2 separate regions of the Homo sapiens genome follow, and region 1 is linked to region 2. The links come from fine-mapping of genetic effects on gene expression. A gene starts in region 2. The other region holds a variant in brackets. All regions are shown on one strand. Distances are from middle to middle.

Region 1 (9,433 bases), 32 kb before region 2:
GTTGGGGGTGGGAGGGAAAATAATCAATTCTGTTTTGCATATGCTGCACCTCAAATGATAGCCAAGGATCCAAACAGGAATATTCTAGAAGCAGCTGAAATGGGTGATTTGTGGGCTTGATATATAGATTTGGGAGTCAACAAAATACACACAACCCCCTGACCATAATTCAGCAAATGACACCAATGCAGGAGTGTTGGAGCACGATTATGCTGCATTTCTAGTGAGAGTAAAGCACTGTGGAAAAGGATCAACTCATACTTCAAATCTGAATCTCCTTGCTTGGGTGATATTCATTTAATATTAGTTGACCTTTGTCTCAATATTGGGACTAGTTCATGATTTTTTTAAAAAAGTCAAGTAAACATCTCCAGCACCTCTACCTGGTAGAACGTAATTAAAGCTATATGCTTTTTGTTGAATCTTAGAGCATTAACCTGAAAAATACAACTGTTAGGGATTCTGCCTCAAAATACTTTTCTGTGGCTCCCGTAAGAAACAAAAGAAAACCAAAAACTCAGTAAGCATATCCCAGCATACCTTAAATATCATTTTTTGGAAATGGATGGTGGCAATTTCTTGTCTCTAGGAATCAACACAGTCCATTAAGTACGTAAATTATCTTTTTGAAACTCAGGATTTATTTCATCTAATAACTAAATGCATTATCTTTCCTAAAACATTTAATTCTGATAATGGATGAACGCTTTGTTAATGGACGTGATAGAATGGTATTTGATTATTCCTGCTTGGCTGAAATTGACTTGATGAATCTATTTATTCTCTTTGTTGCATACCAGAGAATTAATGGCCTGTTTGCACATGTAAATAGTTTATATTTGCTTAGGAAGTGAGTTTGAATTGCCATTGAATTAGAATTGTGAGTGCCTTTCCCCATCTTAGGCAAATCGTTTACAGTTACCTTCAAGAGCCCCCCAGTCAATGTCCTGGTTCTCTGGTTTGTGCAGGGCAGGGTATCTGTTAAAGAGGTTGGCAATAAAAGCCAAGTTCAACTTGGGGTTCCCTCGGACAACATCTGTGGCTGTGACAAACTGCCGGCAGCCCAGCCTCTCCGCCTGCTGCAGCATGCATTCTGCCCTCTGGATGTCATCCTTCTCCTGCAATGCAAAAGGATGTCTCAGGGCTGGGTCAAGGCTCTCCATGCACAAAGCAGATTGCATAATGTGAAAAGAAATGGGAATCTCACTGAAATCATTAGTGTTTATCTCAGGCAGACACTTAATAACAGCACATTATTGCCTATATGCACCTGCACCAAAATCAGAAAGTCACAAGTAAAAGGAATCTCAGAGGTTAAGTAACAAGGATCTCTCATCTCCTTTATCAAACTATTTCAGATGAGTGGTTGGTTGCTCTGTTTCAAAAGAGATGCAGTAGATTCTGAAAACTGATCATTTGAGTTTATCTTAATTATTTCCAACCATTAAGATTCCTTTTTATTATTTGTGTGCACAGATGACATGAGATTGTCTATCAAAAATTTTATTTATTAATTTATATTCCCATAACCAGTTCACAAAAGATATTTACACTTGCCAGTAAGAACATATGATTAGCATAACCACTGTCTCCACATTGAGTTGGTATACTTGCAACCCAAATAAAATAAATTTTATCAGTTAACCTATGTATTATTATTGATAAATATATAATATCAATTTTATTTTTGCAGACTTCAGATTTTGAACCACTCAATGTGCTCAAATAATTCTAGAGAATCTCTAGCCATTTGTAAGTGACTCTTAACCCTAAAATTTTGCTGAAATATGGCCCACTGTCCTTAAAGTACATGAAACCACCAATTTTCAGAAAACAAAACTTTAAATTAGGATGATTTCTTAATATGACCCTTTACTAGATAACGCTACACATTATGCATTTCATGAGCTTTACTTGTCATTTACTTTTACTCTACTTCTCATTAGGAATCAGTTGACTTCAACATGAACTCATTGGATTTAACTCCAGTGATATTAAATGAGGCACAGAAACGGGCAAAGAGACTTCTCAAGATCAGTATTAAAGTGGCGGCAAAACAGAAGTTTTATTATAACATTCAGACCCATGTGGGGTTATAGAGTCTACTAAATGATGAACATATATAGAATTGCCTAGCATGCTGGATGGTGTTTAATTACTATTGGTTTCTTTCTTTAATGTTGTATTTCCAGATTCAGTTTTCATCAATTATTATCCCAAACTGCTCACAGTTTTACCGTTTTAACAGGGCTTTAGGCAGAAATGCCCAGTCATGGAACTCCAGAATCAGGGCCACACAAGGTAATGGAACTGCCAACATGAAAATAGCATCATATTCTCCAAACACAACTGGGACCTGGCCTTACCCGCAGTCCTGACATGTCAATAACAACAGCAGGAACACCTTCTTCATCTCCTTTTGGAGCCACCTGCTCAAGCAGGTGGTAATAAGCTTTTGAGTCCTGTGAGAAATTAAGAAATTCCAATTTCAAAATAGCACAGCTAATTACATACTTAGCATAACAATGATTTCCCAAAAGCAAACATTTTATTTCATATTCAGCTATCATTCCAGAATGTAACTTAACAAAGCTAGAAACATTCACTAATTTGAATGTTCTATTTGTCTCTTTACATATCACATTTGCTTTTCTTTTTAAAAGGAGCGTAACAATAAAATAGACAAGATATACACAAAAGGCACCCTAAAGAAGTGGATATTATTCTGTTGTCTTTAGGGGAGAAAAACAACTTATTTACATGAATTAAATTGTATACAGGAAAATATATATATACCTTTATATTGCTGTAGAAGTCAGTCAGCTAAGGTTTAATTAAAAAAAAGTGACAGAAAAAGGAAGCACAAGTTTAAAGCGAGTTTAAAATACATTTAAATGGACAATCAGCAAGAGAAAAAGATGTCAAAGACAGAAGATTGAAGCATTAACAAGCAATCTTTACGTAAAAGGAGAAATATTAAGAAAAGTGCATTTCATATTTATCTAGAAGCTAGAAAAATGGTTCAATTTAGTTATAGCAGATTAGATACAGGTATTGAATTCTCAAGTTTTCTTAGATTCTGAAAATATGCTTATTGACAAAAAGAATTCTCAGAATTATAGTCTTAAAATATAAATTTATTCTTAGTCAATGAAAGCATACAGATTTTCAGGTAGTTTATTTAAATCATTTAATAGCATCTCAATTTCTCATAAAGATCGAAAAATCAGCTATTATTTTGTTTCTACAACTGGTTAGGGTAGGTAAGGCCTGGGCAGAGGAGAGGTATGCTCACCACTTTTGGCATTAGAAAGAGGAGAACCAGAGAGTGTGAATCATTGATGTTGCACCTGGGGAAAATGATCTTCATCTCCCTTCTATCTACCCTCCCTTCTCTGACTTTTCACTGTAGCTATTTTGAAGTCAGTGAAAGTCACATGCAGGTGTCAGGCACCAATACCATCTGCCTGCCC[T/C]GGGTTACATCTTTTTAGTTTGGCTAAGAGTAACCTCATTTCACCTGACTCTCATGAACCTTCTCACTCACTCTAGCCTGGGTGTTCTCCTCGCCTTTGCCAATTTACACGATTTAAAGACATCTCCCAAGGTTGCTGGCTGGCTACTCAGACATACACATGACAGCACGGAGTCAGTTGCCATGCAGCGGCTGCCAGAGAACAGGCACAACACTGTATAAGTAAGTGCTCATCTGGCCAGCTCCTATCTCATACAGACACTTCCCAAAGCACAAAATGGTGGTTCTAGAGAACACAGCCATTTAATGACAGGAAATTAGGTAAATTTACAGCTGAGATCTGACAGCCTAATTTTGTCTGAAAAGTTTTGCAATTGCAGAGCTTAACTGTTGAGCACAAAGGGAGAGCATGACAGCCAGCTCCTGTTAAAACCCAGGTCGGTTGGTGGTGCTAGAAGAATGTTAATAGCCCATGAAAGATGCATAGTTAGAAAGATGGATTTAGCTTAGATCCTAAAAAATGGGGGCTTTCCATCTAGAAGCTTGACTCTGACTGGCACAGTGCCTGACACACGCTGAGTTCTAAATGCCACTGAATGCACGTCATATAGCAGTGGGAAACTGTTACTCAAAGAATTACAAGCCTAGGTGTACTCCTGTTGAGTCATGTGAACTTTCCTCTGACTCTTTCTCTTTGGGGAAAAGTTATTTAATGTTTGAGAAAGTGGAGACTGAAGTATTTTCCTGGTGTTGCATCCCAGCATCTCCTACTCTTTCCTTCTAGGGACCGCTTTCCATTCCTTTCTGCTCCTTAACCACTTTCTATCTTCATCCATCTGTCATCATTGCCAATAGCTGTTTTCTTTCACCTTGACAGGGAACTTTTCATATACTTGAAAACCACAGTGTATTCCTGCCTCAGCCTTTCCCCTATGGACCTCTTTGTCTCTTTATCTGTAAAATGAGAGGATAATAACCCTTACCTCATGGGGTTGTTGTAAGGATTCAATAAGAGAATACACATATAAATCAGTTAGAACAGTGCCTGGCATGTTGCAGACACCATGTTTGCTGTTATTAGTATAACTAGAAGAGTCATCTTCATTTAATTTTTTACAGGGAATTCCCATCTGCTGCTCCCATTTATGAAACCAGAGACATTACAGACCTACATATATTCCCTTTACTTGGACAGCAGACTGTTCTCTTGCTCTTCCTCTAGCTCACCTTTGTCCCTCTACTTCCTGATATGGAAACTCCAATCGAGACACTGCACTAGGACTCTGGGCAGGTCTGTGTATGGCCCAGGACTAGAGCAGCAGATGGGCTCTCAAGGACAGTGAGCACCTCCAAAACAGCACCAGACTACCCTGGAACTTCTGAAGAGAGGAAGCCCCAAATCTTTATCTTTTCTTTATTATTGCCCAAATTCCCCTTCACTCCTGCAGAGAGTCATGTTCAAACAACGCTCCTCCTACCTTGATGTCAGTACTGAAGTTGCCAATTTTGTTGCAGCCTGCATTTTCCAGGTGGTAATTAGCCCACCTCAGCAAGAGCTCTTCAGGGGAGAGTTTCATCAAATCCTCCAGGCTCTCACCTTCTCTCAAAAGAGCAATCAGAGCTGAAGAAGCACAAAAACCACAGAAAAATAAATGCAGCGATGTTGGGGGAGGGGGGTTGGTTATAACTTTCATTAAGCTCTGCTAAAAAGCTAAAGATAACAACGTTACCTCTTTGGGGTAAAGGTTCTTGTAGCCTTTCCCATGGATTAAATATTTTATTATTATTCCCTAAAAAGAGGCGTAAGCCATTGTGAGCTTATTTATTATCTCCATTTTCCAGATGGAGAAAACAAAGCACAGTGAATCTCAACGCTATGTTTAAGAACATTTGGGCAGAGCCATAAAAATAACCAAGGCTACTGGCTCGGATGTTTTGCTGGGTCTGTCAAACCACATTTCACAATATGACAACATTTTTGCTTTTAAGAGATCAATTTTGTAATAATAACAATGTTCTCTTGTCTATTCCCATAGGTGTTTTATATTTCAAGTGCTTACCTGCCTAATTATAGCAACTCAACAATGTAATCAACTCTCCTCTACGTTTTCCCAGATGAGTAAGTATTTTTTTGCTCAGCTAGAAGGTTTAAATTTAGCTGAGGTCATTATTTGAAGATCAATATTCTTTCTCACAGGTTCTAAGATCCCTATTTCCTCTCCCCCGCCTTCTTTATATTATGTTTAATACATTGGTTTTTAAATAATATTTCAGGATTTTTCATTGGTTATTGTGATTTGGACATATAAATAAAAAAGTATGTATAACTAAAGATTAGAACTTGACTACAGATTTCATATTGGTAGGATTTGTACCTGATAACTAAAAGATAACATCGTGTTTTGCATGATACTTATCAAGGTGGGCTACCTCTGTCTAAGCCAGGGGGCTGTCACTGTTTACATACAGATAAGATGGTGAGAGAAGACGCAATAAGATTGACAGCTACATATTTAGTTGAGAACTCTGAAACCCTAAATGGAATTTTCTACGGTCTTTAAAAATGTTTATTCTAGCCTGCATAGATTTAAGGTGTGTAACGTGATGTTTTGGTATACTTATCTTGGTAGACACATACACAGTAAGGTGGTTACTGTTGGTCAAGCAAATTAACATACTCACATCTCATATCGTTACCTTTCTTTTTCTTTCTTTCTTTCTTCATTTCTCTCTCTATCTCTTTCTTTCTTTCTTTTTTGTAGGAAGAGTGCCTGAAATCTACTTTCTTGGCAAATTACCAGTATACAGCACAATATTATTAACTATAGCCCTCGTGCTGTTTAGATCTCCACTTATTCATCCCATATAATTGCAACCTTGAACCCTTTGACCTATACCTTCCTCTATAGTTTTGATAAGAAATAGACCAAGTTCCTCCTAATCTGGTACCTTCACTATAGTATATGAATGTGAGTTGCTTACTTCGCAAAGTGCAAGTTAAAAGTCCTCTTATTTGTTACAAATATCTAAAGGCAAAGTGAGCTCTGAAAAAACCTCTTGAGGTTAGAGTGCCAAACATTCAAGACTGAGCCCTATGCTCCAAACAAACATTATTGTTAGTCTATGGTCTTAAAAAGCTTTTGCTCTATCATTAAAAAACGTCTGGTCTGTGTGTATAGAATCTGTGACATGAATACCATGGAATCAATATAACTGTGTAGTTTTCAAAACTTGAGAATTTCTGACATCTTCCTCCTACAGTCCCCAACGCGTAAGTTATTAGAAAGCTGTGTCATAAATGACCTTTGGGACTTGCTCTTACCTTCATTTCTGCTGAGTTCAATGTCAGCAAACAACCCAATCTTGATGACTTGCCACAGAAGTCCCAGGACCAGATAAGGCTTCCCCTCCTTCAGGTCCTCAGCCCCTATGTTGACCACATGGCACCCGATGGCTGAGGCAGAGTTCAGAGCCAAGTTCAGATTTTCCTGAGGGAGAAAATGTATGCAAGTTTTTGTTCTATGACTTTGTAGATGCCAAATAATACCGATGGCAACAGTAACAATGTTTTCCTTCTGCGAAGGTCACAGGTTTAGAGTCATGGTCTTCACTCATTTTAACATTGAGAAAAAAACAGTGACTCATAACCAGAAGAGAAAATCCAGTAACCCAGACACCGACCACTCATGCAGTGGTCCATTCAATCAAACCAGCACCATAAGTTGAAGGCCCATTCTGGTTGGCATGAGACTGATGAGGCCTATATTTTTCCATCTTGCTCTGTGATGAAGCTGACACACAAAACATCTCTATTGGCCAAAAATAAAGGGACACCTTTGAGAAAGTCATTGTCCTGTCACTGGCCATCATGAATAAGACAATTGTTGATGTAAATCAAGATCATAAAAGAGAGTAGCAGAAGAGCTTTTTGACTTGAAGATTGGGTGTTAAGAAAATGAAAAGGCTGGCACGGTGGCTCATGCCCATAATCCCGGCACTTTGAGAGGTCAAGGCGGGTGGATCACCTAAGGTCAGGAGTTTGAGACCAGCCTGACCAACATGGTGAAACCCCATCTCTACTAAAAATACAAAAATTAGCTGGGCATGGTGGCAGGTGCCTGTAATCCCAGCCACTCGGGAGGCTGAGGCAGGAGAATCTCTTGAACCCAGGAGGCAGAGGTTGCGGTGAGCTGAGATCATGCCATCACACTCCAGCCTGGGCGACAAGAGTGAAACTCCATCTCAAAAAAAAAAAAAAAGAAAACGAAAATGAAAAATAGATACGATTAAAATTCCTGGAAAAGATGGAATGGTTTTTGCTAGGTTGATTTGTTGAGTATCTGTAATAACTAGGGAACCTGAGTATACACACACATACTCATAGATTCTATGTTCTTATGAGTAACAACAATGCAGGTAATGTAACTCACATATAGTCGAGATAGAGTCAAGGGAGTTTTCAGTCCAGACTCTGTATGTACTATTCTTGAGTTTAAAAAGGAAGAGATATCAATGTCAGAGATGTATAGAAATTGTTTTAATTGGCAAATTAAAAACAAAGCAAAGGCCGCCAGTGAATTAGGAAAAGAACTATCAGAAGAAAAGTGGGTCCTTGTTCTAGTGCTTAAATGATGAGTGAAAAATACTGTTTCTATATATGGTCAAGATTATGAGTAAATTTAACATTAAGTGCATTCATATGTGTTTAATCATTGTTCTCAATTTGGTTACCATTTCCATTTTTAAAGTACACAAGGTTGCTTAAATCCACACAGGAGATAATGTATCGTTCATGATTTAAGAAGTTAGATATGGTTTCTTAGCAAAAGAATTATGATAATGTTAAAATATTGGAACACAACACAGAAATACACTTACTGCTGGTTACTATTCCAGTTAATCAACAAATTGATGGAATAAAAGCAAGTTATATTTATTATACTCGTGGCTGTGGCCAAAATTACTATGAAGGCTGCCAGAGTACTTCCCGTTTTTCACCCCCTCGCTTCTTAGAAAGGCTTATGTTTTCATCTAAAATGCTGTTTATTTGGCATCAAATCAAAGATAAATTGCTAAGGAAAGCTTGAGTTAAAACTTTAGCCAAAGTGAATTTTATTCCTAAGTGGCCAAAACAAACATACAAAGCCCCAGCTGCTACCACTCCACCAGTCTCCCTTCTTTGCTGCTCAGAAATGTATCCCTTTATCCCTGAAGTATGACAAGTCACCAGCCCAAAGCCTGGGTTTTGCGAATGATGTCTGAGCCCCTGAAAAAGGCGGACTCAGCAGTTATGATGCTCATTGATGCCAAACAAATCCTGTATTATGGTAACGGTGGGAAGACATACCTGAATGGTGAAAGGGGTTAGCTTCTTTTTGTTGATTGTTCTTTCATCAATTGTGTCTGGCACTGACAGGTTGATCATTTTACTGAAAGAGAAACAATTAAATTAAAGAAAGCAGTCTTCTGAATAACAGAGCCCAGTAACGTTGAATTTAAATTCTAGCAATACCATAATCAAAGAAGATAGCAACAGAATCTGTGATGTTTAGATATAAAATCAGTTATGCCGTTTGACTAGACTCAAACTATCTGCGGGAAAGGTGAATACTACTGAAGCCACATTCATATATTGAGGTTGGAAATGAGGACCCCACTTCATTCTCCCACCTAAACAGCTGCAAAATTATCCTGATTTTCTTAGCACATTAGGAAATTCTGGGTGGATAACCAAAGTAATTCTACCATAAGTACTTTATTTTCTTAGCCATGAAAATTGTCCCCATTATATAAAAGACTGTCTACAAAATTCTGAGCTTATTATTGTCTACATTTCTATTTGACACAGGACCAAACTTTGTATCTTCAGCTAATCATATGATAACATTTTTATATCCTTCTCAGTGCCCTAGGCTGAGTACCAATGAGTCACAGGGGTCTTAGAAGGTAAAACTAGCAGAT
Region 2 (9,433 bases):
TGTAGAAAATTAAATAAAATACGTGAATGAATGAACTTGCCTTCAAATATGAAGAGGACACCAGACACTACCTCACAGGACTGTATGACAACTAAATGCTTTCATAGGGTTAAAGCACTTAGAAAAACACCTGATTCAATGTAAGTATTAACGTTATTATTAGGATGATTAATTGAAGCGCCTTCCACTCCCCCCCATCCCCCACCGATATCTTACAAGATGGAGCAGTTATGCAATTTCTGGGCAGACTGATGTAAGCATTGAAACTGACAAACCAAAACAACAGGAACAGTCAATAGTATAAGGCAGGAAGTTGGATCAGAAGGGAACTGAGGAAAGCAACAAGGAGATGCCATCTGGGGAACACCACGGCCACAGCAGCTATAGGGAGATATCCCTAGGAAACCAACATCTAATCAGGAGGTGACTTCCGAGAGCCTCAAAATGAAGACCCTGTAGAACATTAACACTTTTTTAAGGAGTGCGCTTCCATCTGGCAAAATAGGAACACTTGAAACTCTTCAAATCTGTGGACACTGATTAGTTTTATATTTTGATGTGTCCTAATTCTAATGTTTATTTCTGCAGTGTTCAGTATACAGATGAAATAGTATCATTTCATTTGATATCTGTAAGTTGGGAAACTAGCAGATAAAAAAACACTAGGAAGAAAATTAGATTAACTGAAATAATGTCACTCTACTATAAAATCTACTATTAGTAATAAAGTCCAAGCCTTTATAATCTTATTTTATAAGTGTTTGACTCTTCATAAGTATAACCTTATAAGCAGATTTCTTAATTTTATTTTACCTAAGCTGATTTTAAAAGTTGCTTGCCATCTCTCCTGTATACACAGAAGGGCCTGTACTCTTTAGGTAACAAGGAGAAGTTGACTTGAGAATTTTCTGAGAATAATCCAAAGTGACTAAGTAAAAGTTAACAACTGCCCTTGTGTTCTTTGTCATCAAAGAGGCCCATTATTGGGTATATAGTTTTGGCAAGGGTAGCTAAGTTTTGGCCCAACCAATGTATTTATACTAAAAAAATGAGATTGTAATTTTCCCTGTTTGTTAGTCATTGTACAATTTTTTAAATTTCTTGAGGTCAATGTCTATATGATACTTTGAAGCTAAAATGAGACTAGGGCTTCGGTAAAGCTGAAACATGGTAGAATGCAAAATATTATATTATTGTTGCATCTTCATTCATAGCAATAAATGGAAACTCAGTAAATATTAAGTTAATAAGTACAATCAAAGTCTTTCATGCGTATGTAAGAAGCTGAGAAAAAAAATACTTGTGACAAATTTTCAATTCAATAAATGCCTTTAGTATCTACATGTGCCAGGAAAGATGGAGAAGGAGCTCAGGTCTGTCAGCAAATAAGTACTTGAAACTAAGACAATGTGATTAATGTTATACTTACTCCAAGATCAAAGCATTGAGCAAATGCACACCAAAGAAACATTTAGTGGGGGCAGGGAGAAGATGGGAAGGCCTCCAAAAGGGTATGTTTCTTGAAGTCCGCCTTGAAAAATGATCAGAAGTTTTAAAAATAAAGAAGAATGCAATTAAAGAAACAGTTGCAGTGAAAAAAGGTGAAAGAGAATGGAACTTTCTGGTGGCTTGTGGTCTGGTGCACCAAAATGTGGGTTAGCAGTGGCGGGGGAGGGGATGGGGTAGTGGGAGGTTGAACAGAAGGAAGTGACAAGAAATAAGATTGGGGAAGTGGGTCGAGGCAAGTTTGTAAAGGCACACAATTCTTTAGTAAAATTATGCATTAATTTAAAAATAGTTCTTCAGCCCATTATTATATAAAACCTGCAATGGTATCTCTTATTTATAAAAATAAAAATGTTTGTAAATTTATTACAAAGTTTTTCTTCTCTCTCTCTCTCTCTTCTTTCTCTTGCTCTCTCTCTTTTATTCTCTCTTAAAACTGTGAGTGCCAAGATCTTGTTAGCTAGCTTCAGTAATAAAAGTCTATAATCACCTACCTCTGAGAAAAATATGCTGGCCTGGAAGGGAGGATCTGTAACACACACAGTCAGTAGGAGCCTGAAATCCTGGCCATCTACTGCCCCCCACCCCAACTGCCCAGTGACCTATGGCCGGTTCCTTCAATTATCTAGCCCATTCCTTATCTCTAAAGGTAGCTGAGAGGATTAAACGAGGTAATGCATAAAGAGTAGCTGCTTACACTACGTGCTCATAATTATTGAGTGCTATTATTAATTTCCTGTCCTCTCCAAGTTAAATGGTACTTTAACAACAAGTAAATGAGACTTTACTTGTTGGTCTTCCCTTCCCCAAAGGGTTCAGAGATAGAATTATAAATGAAGTTAAAGCACTGAAATTGTTTCCCAAATTACCAATTGTTTCAAGGCATAATTTACAAAAGAGACAAAAATTTAAATGCTACAAAGAAAAGGGTCTCTGGGATTGCTAAGGAAATGTCCTCCTAGGCACAACTCCATCCCACCACAGCAGTGCTTGTTCAAAGGGCAAGACCTAGAAGATTTTTCCCCTGATGTTCCTGGGGGTGAGCTAGAATGAAGAGGAATATCTTTGTAACATATGGGGTTGATGCTTTAGCAATGTAAACTTAACTTTAAACAGGGGACCTTTATATTTTGAATTAACTTTCGCATAGTTCTTTTTTATTCCTTCGTAAATATAAGAAAAATACTGACATTCCTTCACATTCGAATTTATTTTATTCTCATTAATAGTTTTACTTAAAATAAGACACAACATATTTTTAGTCTGTTCTTTTACGGGGTTCAAGTCCCTCTTATCTCAGTTTCACATTTTTGCTTGTTTGAAACTATTCAGGTGAGATGTGCAAAGTAACATTGGTGGTCACATTTTGCAGTTTCCAGAAATTCACATTTATAGGTAAATGATTAATTCTATTCAAATTTGTCTACACAGACATTCTTTAAACAATTATACTTAATAGAAACCAAACTTATGACAAATGTATGTAAATTCAAAATCAAGATGTGTGTGGATAAGCCACCTTTATTTGCTTACTGATAGTTCTGACAGAGTAATTTTAGAAAACAAGTTGCTGTGTAAAAGAAAAGTTCGGTTTTGATAAACATCCTGATTAATGTTCGCATTTCCAGTCTGAATGGCTTTTATAGTTATCATTTGTCAATGGTTCTTAGTGTTATGTGATAGTGGTAATTAAGTAAAAGCTTATACTACAAAATCCAAAGTGTCTATGTTTGGGCAGTTTCTGAAATAAATATCCCATATCAACTGTGTAAAAATTTCTATTGTAGATAAAAGCCTTTCTCCCAGAATTTGAGTGAATATTCATTGATATGGTCATAAGCATAACAAATAATTCAGACAATCCTACAAAAACACTACAATTAAGCATTATACAAATTGCTTTTATTTTTAGAGAACAAATGGAAAAGAGAAAACCTCTAATTCCATGTGGTTATAAAGCACACCCATTAAAAACCCTTGGCGCCAAAAATCACTCAAATAACCAGTATCACATTCAGTAACATATGACTCTAGATAATTTATCCACTAAAGTACTGTAAAGAAGTTTTTTAGAAAAACAGAACCGCAGGAACTAAAATTAAACTACCCCCATTGGGCCAATAAGCCATACAATCTAAATTATCAATACGCGCTTTTCCTGAAAACATTTTAAAGAAGATAAAATCACAGTAAATAGCCTCCGTGAAATAGAGCAATAGAAATAAACCAGAACATGGTTTGGTTTTAAAAGGAAAAAGAAACCTTAATTTTGGGCAGGGGTGATAACTGCAGATAAGTTGAGAAGAACCCAGCCCAGAGAGCCGAGGTGCTCCATCTTGGATGGCCACGCGAGGTGGCGGCAGATGTCCTGGCCAGTTAGACAGTGGCAGGAATCACAGAGGTCTCAGGTGACATGCTCAGATCTCTGGTCCCCTGAAGGCAAAACCCACAATCCACAGAAACAGTGCCGAAGTGCATCACAAGCGCTTAAAACCAACAAAAACACATGAAGAACATTTACCTTGCAGGAAAAAAGCTGTCCTTGGTAGTACTGGTGTATGACCAGGAACCCCTTCTTTCTGATCTGCAGAACAGCTTTGTCAAGCCTGGGTGTGTGGTCACAAGGCAGGAAGTGACTAGAATGACAAATCATCAGCCAGGAAAGAAAAAGATTTTGTCTTTATAAGGACATTTTAACTTTTTTTTCATGTCCCCGCCCCACCAAAAATCACCTGACAGAACAGGTCACAGTGAAATTCAGACACCTCCTACCACTTCCTCTTTTTTTTTTTTTTTTTTGAGACAAGGTCCCGCTCTTTTGCCCACCTCTTTATAAGCATTTTTCTCTCTCCCTTTCTCCTCCAGCTGTCTTTGAGTAGTCCCTGGGCTACTTAAACCTTTCTGATTCTAGATAGCAAGGCAAGATCAGCCTGATAACTTGACTTCTTTGACTCTAGTTGCAAAAGCAAAGCCCAGATGCCTACCTACTTACAGCAAAGATCAACAAATTTTTCATTTTTAGTGAAAGAGCCAGGGAAAAAGGTGGCAGTACACCTGAAACAAATGAAAAGGGACTTCCTTGGGAAAGCCCCACCCCACCTGAAATCAAACCTCTCTGGAGTCCTCTAACAGTGATCTTATTGGTGCAAACAAAACAGAACGATCTCTTTAAGTGAAGGACATGAAAAGGAAGGTTACTAGATTATTTACTCATTCTTTTATTTATAGAACATCTATGTGCTAGGGATCTCTTTAACCCAATTAAGTATCTCAATTATTTAAGCGTTTCCTATAAAGAGCAGCAGTAGATTGCACAGGCAGCTGTTATATTTAAATGGGTAGCTTAATTCCTTCTTACAGGCAGGATTTTTTTTTGAATGCACATTTTATAAAATTAGCAGGTGGTGGCAGGGGAAGCTCTGTTCTGTACCCAAACCCCAGATGCTTGAGGGCAAATTCCTATCTTCAAATGGAGCATCCTCAAGTGCTCACAACAGTTGTGAAGACTGTGGCACCCTGAGTTATGTTGACTAAATATTAGACATGTCTCCACATTGCCCGGAGACTGTGTGTGACTCCAGTAGTCAATCTGCCGTTTAGGAATGAGGGTATGTGGCTGTACTCCCAGGTCAGATGCTGCGCTGAAGATATCTGCTCCAGAGTTGACATGCGTCCGTGTCCGCTGGGCCACGGGCCTCTCAGGTGGTCACGGTATTCTGACTGGTTGGAGGGCTGCCCTTATACTTCTTTTGCTTTTTTGATTTCTCCTCTAGAAAGTTCCTGTTTCTGACCTTAAATGTTAAACCAAACTGTTCTGGTTTATCTACTTCATTAGCCAGTGGTGTGGTGACTTCATCAGAAGCCCACAGGGGCTATCTTGAGGAACTGGGTGGGCGGAAGAACAGGACGAGACGGTGGGGATTCTAGAAACGGTTCACCTCACAGAGAGCTATCAGCCCTCTTGTGATTTCCCAGGGAAGACTGAGGGGGTGATGGGACTCTGTTTTCTCCATCGCATAATCACTCCCAATTAATAAGTTGCAGAGAGCTTTCAAGAAGCACCTACATTCTTTCAGGACACCAGAGGAACATCCATGCATCACTGTTACAGCACTGCTCACGCTACAAAGCAGCAAAATGCTGTCTTCATTCGGGGCCCTGCAGCAGGACTCTGTAGATAATGTCCTGCTGGTGTTACAGATACAAGGGGTTGTAACTGTGGACCTCCCTGATCTGGTTCCACATCCTGGTGGCTTCAGGATGGCATAAAGGCCCAACAGTAACACTTCATGAAGGGGAACAGATATTTATTCCTTTACCTTGGAGAAGGAAAGCACAGTGTTCTGTATCTAGTGGTGCCTGGTCATCTGAGGCCGGAGGAATCTATGAAGAAGAGCAAAATATATTTGTGCATTGGTTCAGCAAGTGTTTGCATGCCTGTCTGAATTGGTGATTCAGAAATAAATAAGACACAATCGCTGTTCTCAAGGAGTATAGTCTAGTGGGGAAAAAACATGTAAGTAAATAAATGCCATCTATAATAGAGGGGTGAAAAAGGCAGTGTGATATCAAAGCAGTTGCAGATTTGAGCAGAGGTGATGTTTGTTAAGTGAAGAAAAAGATTTAGGATTCCAGGCAACGTCGAGGTTGTAGAAGATGAAAGGCATTGACCTGGGTACTGCTTACAGCCACCCAGTTAATAGAGTCGTCTTCTACCCTAGCATCCACGGCAGGCACCCACACCCCCTCAGCCACATCCTGGCCGGCACCATTGCAAGCCCTGCCCTACTCCCTCAATCTTAATCTCTTTATCTGCCTCTCATTGGTGTAAGTCTACCCAGTTTCAGGCAATTGTTTAGGTCCTAGACCAAGACTTTTTCAGAGAAGTGTATTTTTTTGCTGTTGGTGTTTTAAATTGCTTGTGCAGCATAGTACTAGTAAACAGAAGACTGACTTTTGGTTTTCTTACGTTTTTATGTTCTGTACAGACAGTGCGCCCCCTTATGGCCTGAAGCCGGAGTGGACCTTTCTCAGCCCACCCTCTATGAGCCTCCACTGCCACCTGTTCCTGGCCTGGGTTTTGCCTTCCTCTAAGCCCTACCACCCTCTCAGACTTCATCCCACCCTCTCCTGCCCTGAAGCCTCTGGCCTCAGTCCCAGATATCAGATCACCTGCTACTCTCAGGCCTCTAAATATTGCTGAGGAAAGTCACAGAAACACAAACTTGGAATGCTAAAAAGTCAAGATGCTTGACTTCAAATTACTTTCAGAAATACTTCTATTCAATTTTACTAAGTCTTGAGAACAGGCATTCTCAACCTGGAGTCCATAGACCCCTAAAACTAAATGCACAATTTTGTGTGTATGTACTTTTTTTCTGGGAGAAGGGTCCATTGTATTAGTAAAGAGATCACAGACCCCAAAAAGTTGGGTATTTATTCTAAACTCTCTCCTCTTGCCTCAACCTTCCACTTCACCCTCCTATGCTTTGTCCTGGCCCAAGATTCTTCTGTTGCCCCTTCTTGACTGAGATGATCCAAGTCGTCTGGTATGAGCTTCCTCTCTACTTCCACAATATCCACCTCTTCCTCCTCTCTTTCAGTCTTAATGGAAGCGGCATTCTTCTTTCTTCCCAAGGTCAGTGTTTCAACACTATCTCACTCTTAATATTCTACTTCCTTAGATATCTTGCTCCATCAATTGTCTCGTGTTTCTCTAGCATCTTAATGCTAGCATCTTCAGCTCTCCCCACTTCCTCTCCATGCACTCATGGGATTTGTATGAAGAGAAAAACACCTTTGCTTCACTCTGCAGCCCACCCTCATCCCAACATATCATGGGCAGGGAATGAAGATGAATTAAGATGGGTACAGTCCTTGCCATTGTAGAATGTCCACTGTAGTTGAAGACACAGACAAGGAAAAAAGGCAAGTGAAGAGTTATCTACTTGGAAGCACAACAGACGAAAAGCAGCGTCCCTAGGAGCACACAGCACTAACCCAGACATGGGACCTGGGAGGCAGAGAGAGGGAGCATCAAAGTGGTGAAGAGTAAAGATGCTGGGCCAGCTGGCTGGGGTCAAGTTCCAGCTCTACTGTTGTACTAGCTGTGTGATCTTGGGCAAATTAGTTACTTGCACTGGCCTCAGTTTCCTAGTCTATAAAATGGGGGTAAGAACAGTGTCTATTTTAGACAGTTGTTGCAAGGGGTAAGTGAATTGATATATGTAAAGAACTTAGAAGAGTGCCTGGCACGTAGTATATCCTATGTACGTGTTAACTAATCGCTTAATATTTACGTCAGGCTCTGGACTAGACCCCTAACATCCATTATTTCATTTATTCCTCACAACAACTCTATGAATTAGGTATGATTGTTAATTTTTTTCTTTAATTTTTAAAATAATGGCTTCATTGCAATATGATTTACATACCATAAAATTCACCTTTAAAAAGTATACAATTCAGTGGTTTGTTGTATTTTAACAGAGTTGTGCAACAATTACACTATATAATTCCAGAACATTTTCATCATCCCCAAAAGAAACTCTGTACCTGTTAGAGATTCCTCCCCATTCACCCCCATCTCCCAAATTCCCAGCCACAGCCAACCACTAGTTTATTTTCTCTCTCTATAAATTTGCCTATTCGGGACATTTCATATAAAGGGAATTACACAATACATGCTCTTTTGTGACGAGCTTCTTTCACTTAGCATGTTTTCAAGGTCCATCCATGTTGTAACATGTCACTACTTCATTTTATTATTTATTCATTTATTTTGAGATAGGGGCTCACTCTGTCGCCCAGGCTGAAGTGCAGTGGTGTGATTATAGCTTGCTGAGGCCTTGAACTCCTAGGCTCAAGCCATCCTCCCGCCTCAGCTTCCTGAGTAGCTGGGTCTACAGGCACGCACCATCACACCTGGATATTTAAATTTTTTTTTTTTCTATAGAGACAGGGTCTTGTCATGTTGGCCAGGCCGGTCTCGAATTCCTGGGCTCAGGTGATCCTCTTGCCTCGGCCTCCCAAAGTGCTGGGATTACAGACATGAGCCACTGCACCTGACCTTCACTCCTTTTTATGGAAGAATGCTATTCCACTGTATGAATATATCACATTTTATTTACTCATCAGCTGATGGATATTTGGATGCTGCCTACTATTTGATATTATAAAAATGCTGCAATTAACATTTGTGTACATTTTGTGCGTGTGGACATATGTTTTCTTTAATTTATTAATCAAAGTAATATATGTATTTGGTTTTAGAAGTCAAATATTACCTCAAGGCTTCTCATGAAACACCAGTCTCCCGACACACTCCTTCACCTCTGATTCCCATTCCCTAGAACCAAGTATTTTGAACAGTTTTAGCTAATTCTTCTGTTATTTTATTACATATTTCTAGATGTTATGCTTATGGTGTATCTTGATTGGGTTCAGATACCTACATATATTTATGTATATGTATATATATGTTCATATATTTTTTCCTTCCTACTTGAGAGATAAATATTTGACCCTCTCACATCCCCCAGTCCAACATATACATGTTAACCTTCCCATCATCCTCCAGAACAGTTTATAATACCCTTTTATTTAAATCAATACTCAGCTTTTACAGTAACTCAAAATATTCATAACTGAGTTAGGAATATTTTGCATTATGTTTTTGTATCTTTTTTTGATATGCTAGGTTTCTACGTACTTATTACTAATTCTGTATAAACTCTCCAACAGAGCTAAAATTCAATTTAAAACATCAAGAAATGAATCCATTCCTTGTTTCCCCCTTGGAGAGGCCCTTCCTCTGTTCGGTCCTGCTGCCCAGCTGCCTTCTAGAAGCTTCCCTACCTCATCACTCTGGGGACTCCTTTATTCTCCATCTAGGCTGAATCTCCTATTTCTGGACCACATGCCATCC

What was found. PIP is the estimated chance that this variant, and not a neighbour inherited with it, causes the effect.
Region 1: its variant is fine-mapped to the expression of LCP1 in whole blood (INTERVAL, PIP 0.94).

What each region holds. Positions count from the first base shown.
Region 1 is chr13:46,145,986-46,155,418 of GRCh38, forward strand. LCP1 (lymphocyte cytosolic protein 1) reads right to left here. Exons shown (of 16, transcript NM_002298.5): 6 at 8,820-8,901; 7 at 6,795-6,960; 8 at 4,951-5,093; 9 at 2,367-2,462; 10 at 923-1,118. Among named protein-coding and RNA genes, the nearest start is that of LCP1, 31 kb to the right of the region's middle. RefSeq lists an enhancer at 4,011-5,210. The variant T/C (reference allele first, on the strand shown) is at 3,474.
Region 2 is chr13:46,178,084-46,187,516 of GRCh38, forward strand. LCP1 (lymphocyte cytosolic protein 1) reads right to left here and starts at 4,094. Exons shown (of 16, transcript NM_002298.5): 1 at 4,028-4,094. RefSeq lists an enhancer at 3,757-4,186.